2 separate regions of the Homo sapiens genome follow, and region 1 is linked to region 2. Evidence: fine-mapped expression QTL. A gene starts in region 2. The other region holds a variant in brackets. All regions are shown on one strand. Distances are between the middles of the regions. Region 1 overlaps SIRT3 (sirtuin 3). Region 2 holds the start of CIMAP1A (ciliary microtubule associated protein 1A).

What was found. PIP is the estimated chance that this variant, and not a neighbour inherited with it, causes the effect. A credible set is the group of variants that fine-mapping cannot tell apart.
Region 1: its variant is the best candidate, but not a certain one, in a credible set for the expression of CIMAP1A in whole blood (INTERVAL, PIP 0.70).

Annotation. Positions count from the first base shown.
Region 1 is chr11:217,691-222,907 of GRCh38, reverse strand. It overlaps SIRT3 (sirtuin 3), which reads left to right. Exons shown (of 7, transcript NM_012239.6): 6 at 3,867-4,076. Among named protein-coding and RNA genes, the nearest start is that of MIR6743, 11 kb to the right of the region's middle. The variant A/C (reference allele first, on the strand shown) is at 2,941.
Region 2 is chr11:194,217-199,433 of GRCh38, reverse strand. It overlaps CIMAP1A (ciliary microtubule associated protein 1A), which reads right to left and starts at 2,673. Exons shown (of 7, transcript NM_053280.5): 1 at 2,388-2,673; 2 at 2,021-2,137; 3 at 1,673-1,873; 4 at 1,134-1,235; 5 at 849-970; 6 at 1-65. The coding sequence starts at 2,129. It overlaps SCGB1C1 (secretoglobin family 1C member 1), which reads right to left. Exons shown (of 3, transcript NM_145651.3): 3 at 4,859-5,016. The coding sequence ends at 4,984.

The DNA of each region.
Region 1 (5,217 bases), 23 kb before region 2:
GTTGGGAACCAGCTGCAGTGTCAAGTCAGGCAGGTGGAGTTGGATCTAAGAGTTTACCGAGGTGAGGAGGGTCTGGCAGGGGACACTGCACAGGTGACAAGCAGCAAGGAGGGTGGGGCGAAGTCAGCATTGATGGCCACGGGGCTGGAGCAGAGAAGAAGGTGGGGCACAAGTGTCATCTCATGGGAGGCTGGCGCCACCTCAGAAGGTGAATGGGTTCAGCTTGGGTTCCAGGCCAGAGTCTGAAGTTGAGAGGACTCCGTTGGGTGCTGGGCTGTGAGCCCACCATGGGGGCAAGACTGGGAGCAGCAGACCCAGCAGGGCCCTTGTAGGTAATCACCGGCTGGCACTGGCTGGGGGCCAGGTAAAGCCAGCAGAGGCTGAGGGGTGCTGGAGTCTGGGTGTGTGTGAACGCAGAGTGGGTACGCTGGCACAGTGCATGGGAGGCCGTGGATTCCCAAGGACCCCAGGGCTGTGGCTGGAGCAGCTGGAAAGACGGAGCCGCCGCTTCCTGAGATGGAGAAGCCTGGTAGGTGGGTTTGGGGGAGCTCAGGAACTCAGCCTTGTTTCCACGGATTTGAGGATGTGCTGCGGACTGGAGGTGTTGAGCAGGTGGACATGAGTCTGGAGTCCAGGAAGGCCCAGAGGCAGGAGCTGGGGTGCTGGAGTGAGCAGACAGGAGAGCCCAGGGTGTGGACAGACATGAGAATGCCATGCTAGGCCTAGGATGGAGGGACAGACACAGGAGGAGCAGTCAGAGGGGCCATGGTGGTCAGCACAGTGTGGGCTGAGACCAGCTGACCGTGCTGGCCACCAGGTGTGGACACTTGGGCCACCAGCCATCTTTATTGTTGAAGTGAAATGAAAATGGCCTTTTTCCTGATTATAAGTGTATCATGTGTGTCTTTGAAAAGATTCGTACATTATATAAAGATATAAAGCAAAGGATCAACTTTTTAATCCCACCAACTGTTAGCATTTTATTCTGTGTCCTCTCAGCTTTCTTTTTTTTGTACAAATGCATACGTACAGATGGTAATTTTAAACTAAAAGTTGGACAGCACTGTACATTCTATTCTGCAGCCTGCTGTTTTCACGTAACAATGTGAGTCCATGGAGATGTGCTGCGTTGTTAATGCCAACAGTTTCCCTTACACGGATATGAGGTCCCAACTGAGAAACCCATGTCTGTAAGGCTGGTGCCATCATGAACTGAATGAGCTGGTGTCACGCACAGACTCTATCTCATGTGCTTTGTGGACGAAATGTTAATGTGTTTGACTGTGGAGTACCACTCCAGATCCCCTTTAGGTGTGACATAACGTGGGATGTAAACCATATGATCTTTTCTAAAATCTCAAAAATTCTGAAACATATTCAGCCACAAGAGCTTTAACATAGATTTTGTGGATTTAATACAAAATTTATGTAAGCAATTTCTTACTGATGGACAATGATAATAAATAGTATATAATTTTTACATTAAAAGTAATGCTGGGCCAGGCACCGTGGCTCACACCTGTTATCCCAGCACTCTGGGAGGCCAAGGCAGGAAGATTGCCTGAAGCTAGGCATTTGAGACCAGCCTGGGCAGTATAGTCAGACCTCGTCTCTACAAAAAATAAAAAGATAGCCAGGCATGGTCTGTGTAGTTGCAGCTATTTGAGAGGCTGAGGAAGGAGGATTGCTTGAGCCCAGGAATTTGAGGTTATAGTGAACTATGATCATGCCACTGCATTCCAGCCTGGGTAACAGAATGAGATCCCGTGCTGTAGTGAATATCCCTGTGTATCATCCTTATCTACTCATGCAAGTACTCCTGAAGGGTAAATGCTGTAGTGAATATCCCTGTGTATCATCCTTATCTACCCATGCAAGTACTCTGGAAGGGTAAATGCTGATAAATACTGAGAACTTGCCTTCCGGTGAATATCCCTGTGTGTCATCCTTATCTACCCATGCAAGTACTCCTGAAGGGTAAATGCTGTAGTGAATATCCCTGTGTATCATCCTTATCTACCCATGCAAGTACTCTGGAAGGGTAAATGCTGATAAATACTGAGAACTTGCCTTCCGGTGAATATCCCTGTGTGTCATCCTTATCTACCCATGCAAGTACTCCTGAAGGGTAAATGCTGTGGTGAATATCCCTGTGTATCATCCTTATCTACCCATGCAAGAACTCCTGAAGGGTAAATGCTGATAAATATTGAGAACTTGCCTTCCAGAAAGATGTAACAATTACACTGCCACAAACTGTGTTTTTATGTAGCCATTTTATCACATCCTCACCAAAACCAAAATCACACAAATCAAATTGGTTAAAAAATGCATGTGTGTGTGTGGAGGGGGGTGCGGATTTTGCCTTTCTGTAGTAAAGAATGAAGTTCATCTTTTCATGTTTATTGCCAGTTGTGTTTCTTCTCTTTGGATTGTATATTTGTACCTCTTGACCATTTTTCATTGGGTCATTATAAATTAGCAATATAAATTAGTTTTAATTTTAGTATAAATTAAATAATATAATTACATTTTAATGTTAATATAAACTTCTTTCTTTTTTTTTTTTTTTTTTTTGAGACAGAGTCTTGCTCTGTCTCCCAGGCTGGAGGTTCAGTGGCGCGATCTCGGCTCACTGCAACCTCCACCTCCCAGGCTCAAGCCATTCTCCTGCCTCAACCTCCCGAGTAGCTCGGATTATAGGTGCGTGCCACCACGCCCAGCTAAGTTTTGTATTTTTAGTAGAGACGTGGTTTCACTATGTTGGCCAGGCTGGTCTTGAACTCCTGACCTCAGCTGATCTGCCCGCCTCGGCCTCCCAAAGTGCTGGGATTATAGGTGTGAACCACCATGCCCAGCTGTTAATATAAATTTCATTATAAATTAGCATTATAAATTAGTTCATAAATTATATGTTTATAAATGAGTTTATCAATTAGC[A/C]ATATAAACTATTGTCATATGTTGTAAATATTTTTGCAGTTTATGATGATGAGAGGTTTTTAAAAATTTTAAATTTTCTACATAGTAGTTTTATGTAGATACCGAGATAATAGTATTTACATAGTCAGATCTGTCATTTTCCTTTGCCTTATCTGACTTCAGTTTTTACGCCTAGAACGTTCTTCCCTATCCTTACTTGTAAATCCTTAGTTTTCTTCAAGAACTGTTTTGTTTACATTGAAACCTTTAATCCATTTGAATTTTTTTCAGTGGGAGGTAGGAATGGAGTATTTTCCTCCCAGATAATGAGCCAGTTTTAATGCCATTTATTAATGTATCCATTTTTTTACCTTGTTCCTCTTAAAAGAAGCTTTGAGAGCTGTATGAAGAAGCCTGATGGCACCGAGCTAGGCCTCTCTAGAGGCTGGGTGGGGAAGACCATGGAGAGACGTAACAGTAACTCCTGCTCGGGGGCACCAGCTCGTCTGGGTGCCCGATGCTGGTGGTGGCTGTCAGAGCAAGCAGGGCTAGCCAGAGGAGATGGACGAGTCTGTGCTGTTGTCCCTCTGCGTCATGCTGGGAGACAGCGAGGTGGGGAGGACAGGGAGAACAGAACGTGCTCACAAAGAGGAGGCAGGAAGGTTGGATCCCTGATGAGCCTTGGAACGGAGGTGGGGAAAAGCAAGGATGTGTGGAAACAGCAAGAAGTGGGAGAGAGAGAGAGAGGCGGAGGGGAGAAAACCGTCACGGAGGCCAAGCGGCAGGAGCTCAGCTGAAGAAATGAGATTGGTGGTGGGTTTTCCCTATATCGCAGGCTCTGACTGCCAATCTGCTGCTCCTCCAAGGCCTCGGTGGCTGTGGCATGAAACATCCTGAGGAGCTTGTAAAGTGGACACTGTGCCCCTCACGTTTGGCCCATTTTTCAGGTGGAGCCTTTTGCCAGCTTGACCGAGGCCGTGCGGAGCTCAGTTCCCCGACTGCTCATCAACCGGGACTTGGTGGGGCCCTTGGCTTGGCATCCTCGCAGCAGGGACGTGGCCCAGCTGGGGGACGTGGTTCACGGCGTGGAAAGCCTAGTGGAGCTTCTGGGCTGGACAGAAGAGATGCGGGACCTTGTGCAGCGGGAAACTGGGAAGGTACAGACTGCTGAGGAGGACCATCCAAGGGGCTGCCCTTCTCACTGCTCTAGGGTATGGTCCACCTGATATGGAGCCCCGTTGGTTAACACAGTAACAGTAATAGCTGATGATGCTGTGAATCCTGCACCAGGCACTACCTGGACCTGACTGGGTGTTACTTTCAATACCTCCATTTAGAGATGAGGAAACAGATGCTAACAGGCCAAGCAGGGACACGGTCCAGACACTCAGGGCTGATGAGTCTGTATTCTTAACAGACTATAGGCGTTACCTTCACTCCCTAAAATAAAGCAGCCAACAGTGTCCCTCTAAGGCCTGGTATGTGATTCTAAGATGATACGGGTTAAAGAACTTTGAGAAGCTAAAGTTCTCTGCATCTATGTGGGATGAAGGCTACATGAGTGATGCTTTTCGGAAGTAATTGGTATGAGAGCCATTGATCAATTATAATCCGCTGAGGAAAGCCAAAGAGCCTTGATGCTTTCTAAGAGATTTCAAACCGCCTATAAACAAGTGAAGTTACAGAAAATGCAGTTTCCCATAAGAATCATGTAGCATGTGTAGCCTTGATATTAAGGGTTTTCAATGGGAGGTGGTAGCATTAAGCATTTAAAGTCCAGTGTCATGATTACAGGCAGGTGTAACACTGTCCAAAGGGGATTTCACCAGTGTATTAGTCTGTTCTCTGGCTGCTCATAAAGGCATACCTGAGACTGGGTAATTTATAAAGGAAAGAGGTTTAATGGACTCACAGTTCCATATGGCTGTGGGGGCCTCACAATCATAGTGGAAGGCAAAGCAGGAGCAAAGTACTGTCTTACAAGGTGGCAGGCAAGAGGACGTGTGCGGGGGAACTGCCCTTTATAAAACTATCAGATCTTGTGAGACTTATTCACTATCAGAAGAAGAGTGTGGGAAAGACCCGCCCCCATGATTCAGTTACTTCCACTTGGCCCCACCCTTGACACATGGGGATGATTACAATTCAAGGTGAGATTTGGGTGGGGACACAGCCAAACCATATCAACTACAATATATCACAGTTGATGCTCCTCTTGCCTTCCAAGGCAGATGTCTTAGGAAATCCTGATCCTTTTTCCTTGTCCACAGCTGTGGCTGCCTCATGGCTCAGGGCCAT
Region 2 (5,217 bases):
TACTGCGGAGCCTTGAACTTGGTCACCCGCACATCAGTTTGGCGGTAGGCTGCGGGACCTGGGGTCTGAGAGGTAAAGGAGGCTCAGACCAACTCGGCCTACCCAGGGCGTGTGGCCCTAGAGGACAGGGAGCAAACTCAGGCTCTGAGTCAACAGGGTCAGCTACAAGTTGGTGCCCGTGCATCAAGGTCCCCTTCTGTCTTCTGTCACACTGTGGAGATCACACCCCACTGCTTGTGGGGTACCTCATGTGGGGGTCACTTCCTCCATTTCAGCCTCACGCTGGCAATGGCATCCCCAGTGTGTGCCAGTCCTGGGAACATCGCTGAGCGTGTGTGAGAGAGGCTGTTGCTGCCCTGTTGGACCTGAGGGCCTGGGGCTGGCAAAATCAACATGGACGAGGGCTGTTGGGTGCCATGATGCTGCTTCCCCATCTCAGGCCCCTCAAGCTCTCAGGCATGTGCCACCCAGGGGCTTTGCACTGGCTGTTTCTGAAACCAGGACCCTCCTCCCCCAAATAGCTCATGGTTTATTTTTTCCTCCTCCTCTTCTTTCCATGCTACCCTATCTAAGATTGCCTCTCTCTCTCCAGACAGTGCTTCCTAAACCCCATCTCTTGTCCTCAGCACGGTCCATGCTGGGGCCAGGGCGTCTCCCTTCTGGCCTGTTGCCTGCCCCTCCTCACCACTGCAGTGTAACCCCAGCACGTGGCAGGTGCCCAGAGGGTGAAGGGCTGAGGGGGCTGAGGGGCATTGGCAAGGCAGGGCCGAACTGGTGGGTCCTGGGTTCCGGGGGAGGGTTCAGATGGTTGGGGGTGATTCTCTGTTCTCAGTTGGGGTGGCCCTTGCCTTGTGTAGGTCGTCGCTGAAGCCGCCCAGCTTGCTGCGGCCCTTGATGGAAAAGGAGGGCTGGGAGGCCTTGCCGACGGTATTGGGCCCCATTACCATGGGCAGCATGTACGCAGCGGGGCCTGCAGGGTGGACGTGGAGCCTCAGGCCGGAACAGGGCCCACTGCTCCTTCCCTGGGGCTCTCCCCCAACTCTGGAGATCAGCCGTCGGGCTGCCCCATGTCACACACCCCACCCAGGATCCCCAGGTCCATTTGGCTGAGGATGGTTGGGGCTGCTGCGGACCTGGGGTGCTGTCCACTCGGAATGCCTTTGTCCGGGCAGAGATGGAGTGGCTGGGTGCTGAGTCGAACACGTACTTGGTGGATTTCTCTGGAAAGTAGTCACCTGGACAAGGAGCCAAGGGGGCTGCTGGGACAAGCAGGTGGGTATGCAGCCCAGTTTGGGGGCTCAAGGAGGACTCCCCAACATTCTAGGCGTGGGGCCTCTGGGCTCCAACACAGGTGGTGACCAAGTCGGGTCAGGGGGTGTCCAGGATGGAAATGCTGACTTCAGGGCTGGTGAGACAAAGGCTATTTTTGAGCAGGGAGAGTGGGGTCTGACGTCGGCCTGGCAGAGAAAGGTCCAGGTCGGAGCTGGACTCTTGGGCCAGAGTCTTCTCTGCCCAGGCACGATGGTGACCCCTCAAGAGAGAAAGATGGGACGGGAGGGGCCAGGATGGCTGAGCTCTCCCACACCCTTGCTGACATGAGGTTAGGGGCACCCAGCAGGGAGGGGCAGGCCTGAGGCTGCGCAGGGCAGGAGCCTGAGACAGGGTCACTAACCTGGACCAGGAGTCAGCATGGTCTTGGTTTGGTAGCGCCCCAGGATGGAGTAGGCAGGGCCAAGGTCCTTGCCAGTCCTCAGTATCTTGGGGTTTACATTGTAACGGGGCCCTGGGGAGCAGTTCTCTGCCAGGAGCATGGGGGCCCCACGGAAGCTGTAGGCCGGTGCACGCAGCTTGGTGGGCGTGTGCTTCATGAAGCCTGTGGACGCAATGGGCCCTGAGCAGCCCGGAGCCTGACCTGCCCTTCTCCCCGCTGGGAGTCAGGGATTGAGCCCCAGGCCCTTCCCGGGACCCCCACCTGCCCGCCTGGCTCCTGACCCTCTCCCACAGTCTCTCAGGCTCTTACCTGTTGTTGGTGGAATCAGGTACTTGGGTCCAGGGCTGCTGTAGAGGGCCATGATGGGTCCCCGGGGGCGATGGGGCCTCCAGGTACCCATCCATACCTCCTCCGTCATGGCCAGCTCTGTCCGTAAGTGAGAGGGTTACCAGGTGCTGGGAGGCCCGGCCCTGTCCCATGCCGGCCCCTGATGTCCCCGACCCTGCTCTTGCTGACACTGAAGGGTAAGACCTGCGGAACCTGCTGCAGCATCAGTGGGGATCTCCAGCTGGGAGCCAGGAGTCAGGGACAGTAGGAGCTTTCTGCATGGGTCTGTGAGCTCCTCACCAGCTTAACTGTAACCCAGAGTTGCTGTCCATGCTGGCCCTTAACTCACCACTGTTCTCGGCTCTAAGGGAGCCCTGGGCCGGTTTCTCCTACTTGGAGTGGTCAAAGATGGGGAACTTCTTGATTGAGGCTGAGCTGAGGGGCAGGGAGGGGGCCGCCTGGGAGGGAACTATAACTTCTTCAGTGCAGGGACAGCACTCAGAGCAGCCTAGAGACCCATCCTCATCAGAGACTGTCCTTTCCCCCCTGGCCTTGGTGCCAGGGAGTTCCCGCAAAAGGAGCATGGAGAGAAAGGCCTTCCTCTCTCCTCATGGGCTTACAGAATTGGGGAGAGGTCCCCCACTCTAAACTCTAGAATGTGGCTCTGTGGGATGACAGGTTCTAGATTCTGTCTATGTGACCAAGACAATGGCTTCTGCCTTTGATCCCCTCACCAGATCTCACCACCAGGTCCCCCCAACAGGACACCCCTATAAGTCCCCCTGACCATGTTCCCCTCACCATGTTCCCCTCACCAGGTCCTCCTCACCAGGTCCCCTCACCAAGGCTCCCCACCCATGTCCTCCTCACCAGGTCCCCTCACCAGGTCCCCTCACCAAGGTCCCCCCCATGTCCCCTCACCAGGTCCCCTCACCAAGGTCCCCCCCATGTCCCCTCACCAGGTCCCCTCACCAAGGTCCCCCCCATGTCCCCTCACCAGGTCCCCTCACCAAGGTCCCCCCCATGTCCCCTCACCAGGTCCTCCTCACCAAGGTCCCCCCCATGTCCCCTCACCAGGTCCCCTCACCAAGGTCCCCCCCATGTCCTCCTCACCAGGTCCCCTCACCAAGGTCCCCCTCATGTCCCCTCACCAGGTCCCCTCACCAAGGTCCCCCCCATGTCCCCTCACCAGGTCCTCCTCACCAAGGTCCCCCCCATGTCCCCTCACCAGGTCCCCTCACCAAGGTCCCCCCCTATGTCCCCTCACCAGGTCCCCTCACCAGGTCCCCTCACCAAGGTCCCCCCCATGTCCCCTCACCAGGTCCCCTCACCAAGGTCCCCCCCATGTCCTCCTCACCAGGTCCCCTCACCAAGGTCCCCCCCATGTCCCCTCACCAGGTCCGCTCACCAAGGTCCCCCTATGTCCCCTCACCAGGTCCCCTCACCAAGGTCCCCCCCATGTCCCCTCACCAGGTCCTCCTCACCAGGTTTCCCTAAGTTCCCTCACCAGACCACCCCTCACCAGGCCCCCTCACCATGTTTCTTTCACCAGGTCCCCTCAACCAGGCACCCACCCATGAAGTCCCCCTCACTGGGTCCCCTCACCAGGTCCCCTGTAACCAAGTCCTCCAGGGCCCCCTCCCTAGGGCTCCCTCAGCCAAATGGAAATCCAGGCAGATACCATGTAGGCAGGTGGGACAGAGCACAGAGCCGACAGCACCGCATGGCCCCCTTGCCAGGCTCAGACAGGACAGAGGTGTGGAGAGGAGGGCCGGGGCAGTGAAGTGTCAGGGCTCAGCACCCAGGGTGGCCAAGGATGGGGCGGTTCCACTCAGCTGTGCCCCCAGAAGAGACCATAGATTGGGCAGCTGAAATGCTGGAAGGTTCTGGCTGTGGGAGAGTCTGGGATCCAGGGTCAGGATCAGGGTCTGTGCTGGTTGTGGTGGGTGTGAGTCAGTGTGGGCGCTGGGGCTGCCCTGGCTGACCTCAGAGGCTGCTCACCTGCGGCTCCCAACCCCCTTGGACATGGGTGTACCTTTTTCTTGGCCTTGTCAGGGGTCCTCTTGGGGCTCGACACCAGCTTTCAGATGCTGAGCACCCCCGCCCTGACCTAGCCCATGGGCGACATGGGGTCTGTGTCCACCCAGTCCTGGACACTTCCTCTTTCTGGGGCTCCCACCTCATACCGCTGCCTCTGCCGCCCGTCTCCCTCCGGACGCCCCCTCCAGACGCCCCCTCCGGACGACCACGCAGTGTTGTCTGGCTCTGTGCTCTGTCCACCTGCCTACGTGGCGTCTGCCTGGATTTCCATTTTGGGTCTTGCCTGTGGTGTGCCTGCTCCTGTGTGGACCCTGTGTGTACCTCTGTGGGGACTTTCACACGTGTGTTCCTTGAGTGGGATCCTCTGTATGTGGGTCTGTGTGTGTGGCTGTGGCCCTGTGTTCCTGATGTCCCCATTTGTGTGTACCTCTGTGGGGACTTTCACACGTGTGTTCCTTGAGTGGGATCCTCTGTATGTGGGTCTGTGTGTGTGGCTGTGGCCCTGTGTTCCTGATGTCCCCATTTGTGTGTCCCTCTGTGGGGGACTTTCGCACGTGTGCTCCTTGAGTAGGATCCTCTGTATGTGGGTCTGTGTGTGTGGCTGTGGCCCTGTGTTCCTGATGTCCCCATTTGTGTGTCCCTCTGTGGGGACTTTCGCACGTGTGCTCCTTGAGTGGGATCCTCTGTATGTGGGTCTGTGTGTGTGGCTGTGGCCCCGAGTGTGTTCCTGATGTCCCCATTTGTGTGCCCCTCTGTGGGGGCAGAGACAGGAGCCTGAGCTGCGGAAGAGGCTTTATTGATTAAACGGTTTGAGGATACATTTCCATGTGGGAGGTGGTAGTGGGCGTTGTGTCCACGGCTGCTTGTGTGGCAGGTCCTATGGCTGAGCCATGTCTGAGGTCCACTTAGGCACCGTCCTGACTGCCCAGCACTTGCACCTGGAAGGCAGACACATGTGGACTAAGAGGGCTGTGCTCAATAAGTGGAGAGCCACAGCTCCATCAGGCAAGCAAGGCCCTCAGTGGGGGGGGGTCTGGCATATTGCTGCCTATCTCCTCCCAGCAGCTGGGAGGTGTGTGTGCACATGTGATGGTGTGCACACATGTATGTGTGTGCATATCCCAGTGTGAGCATGTGGG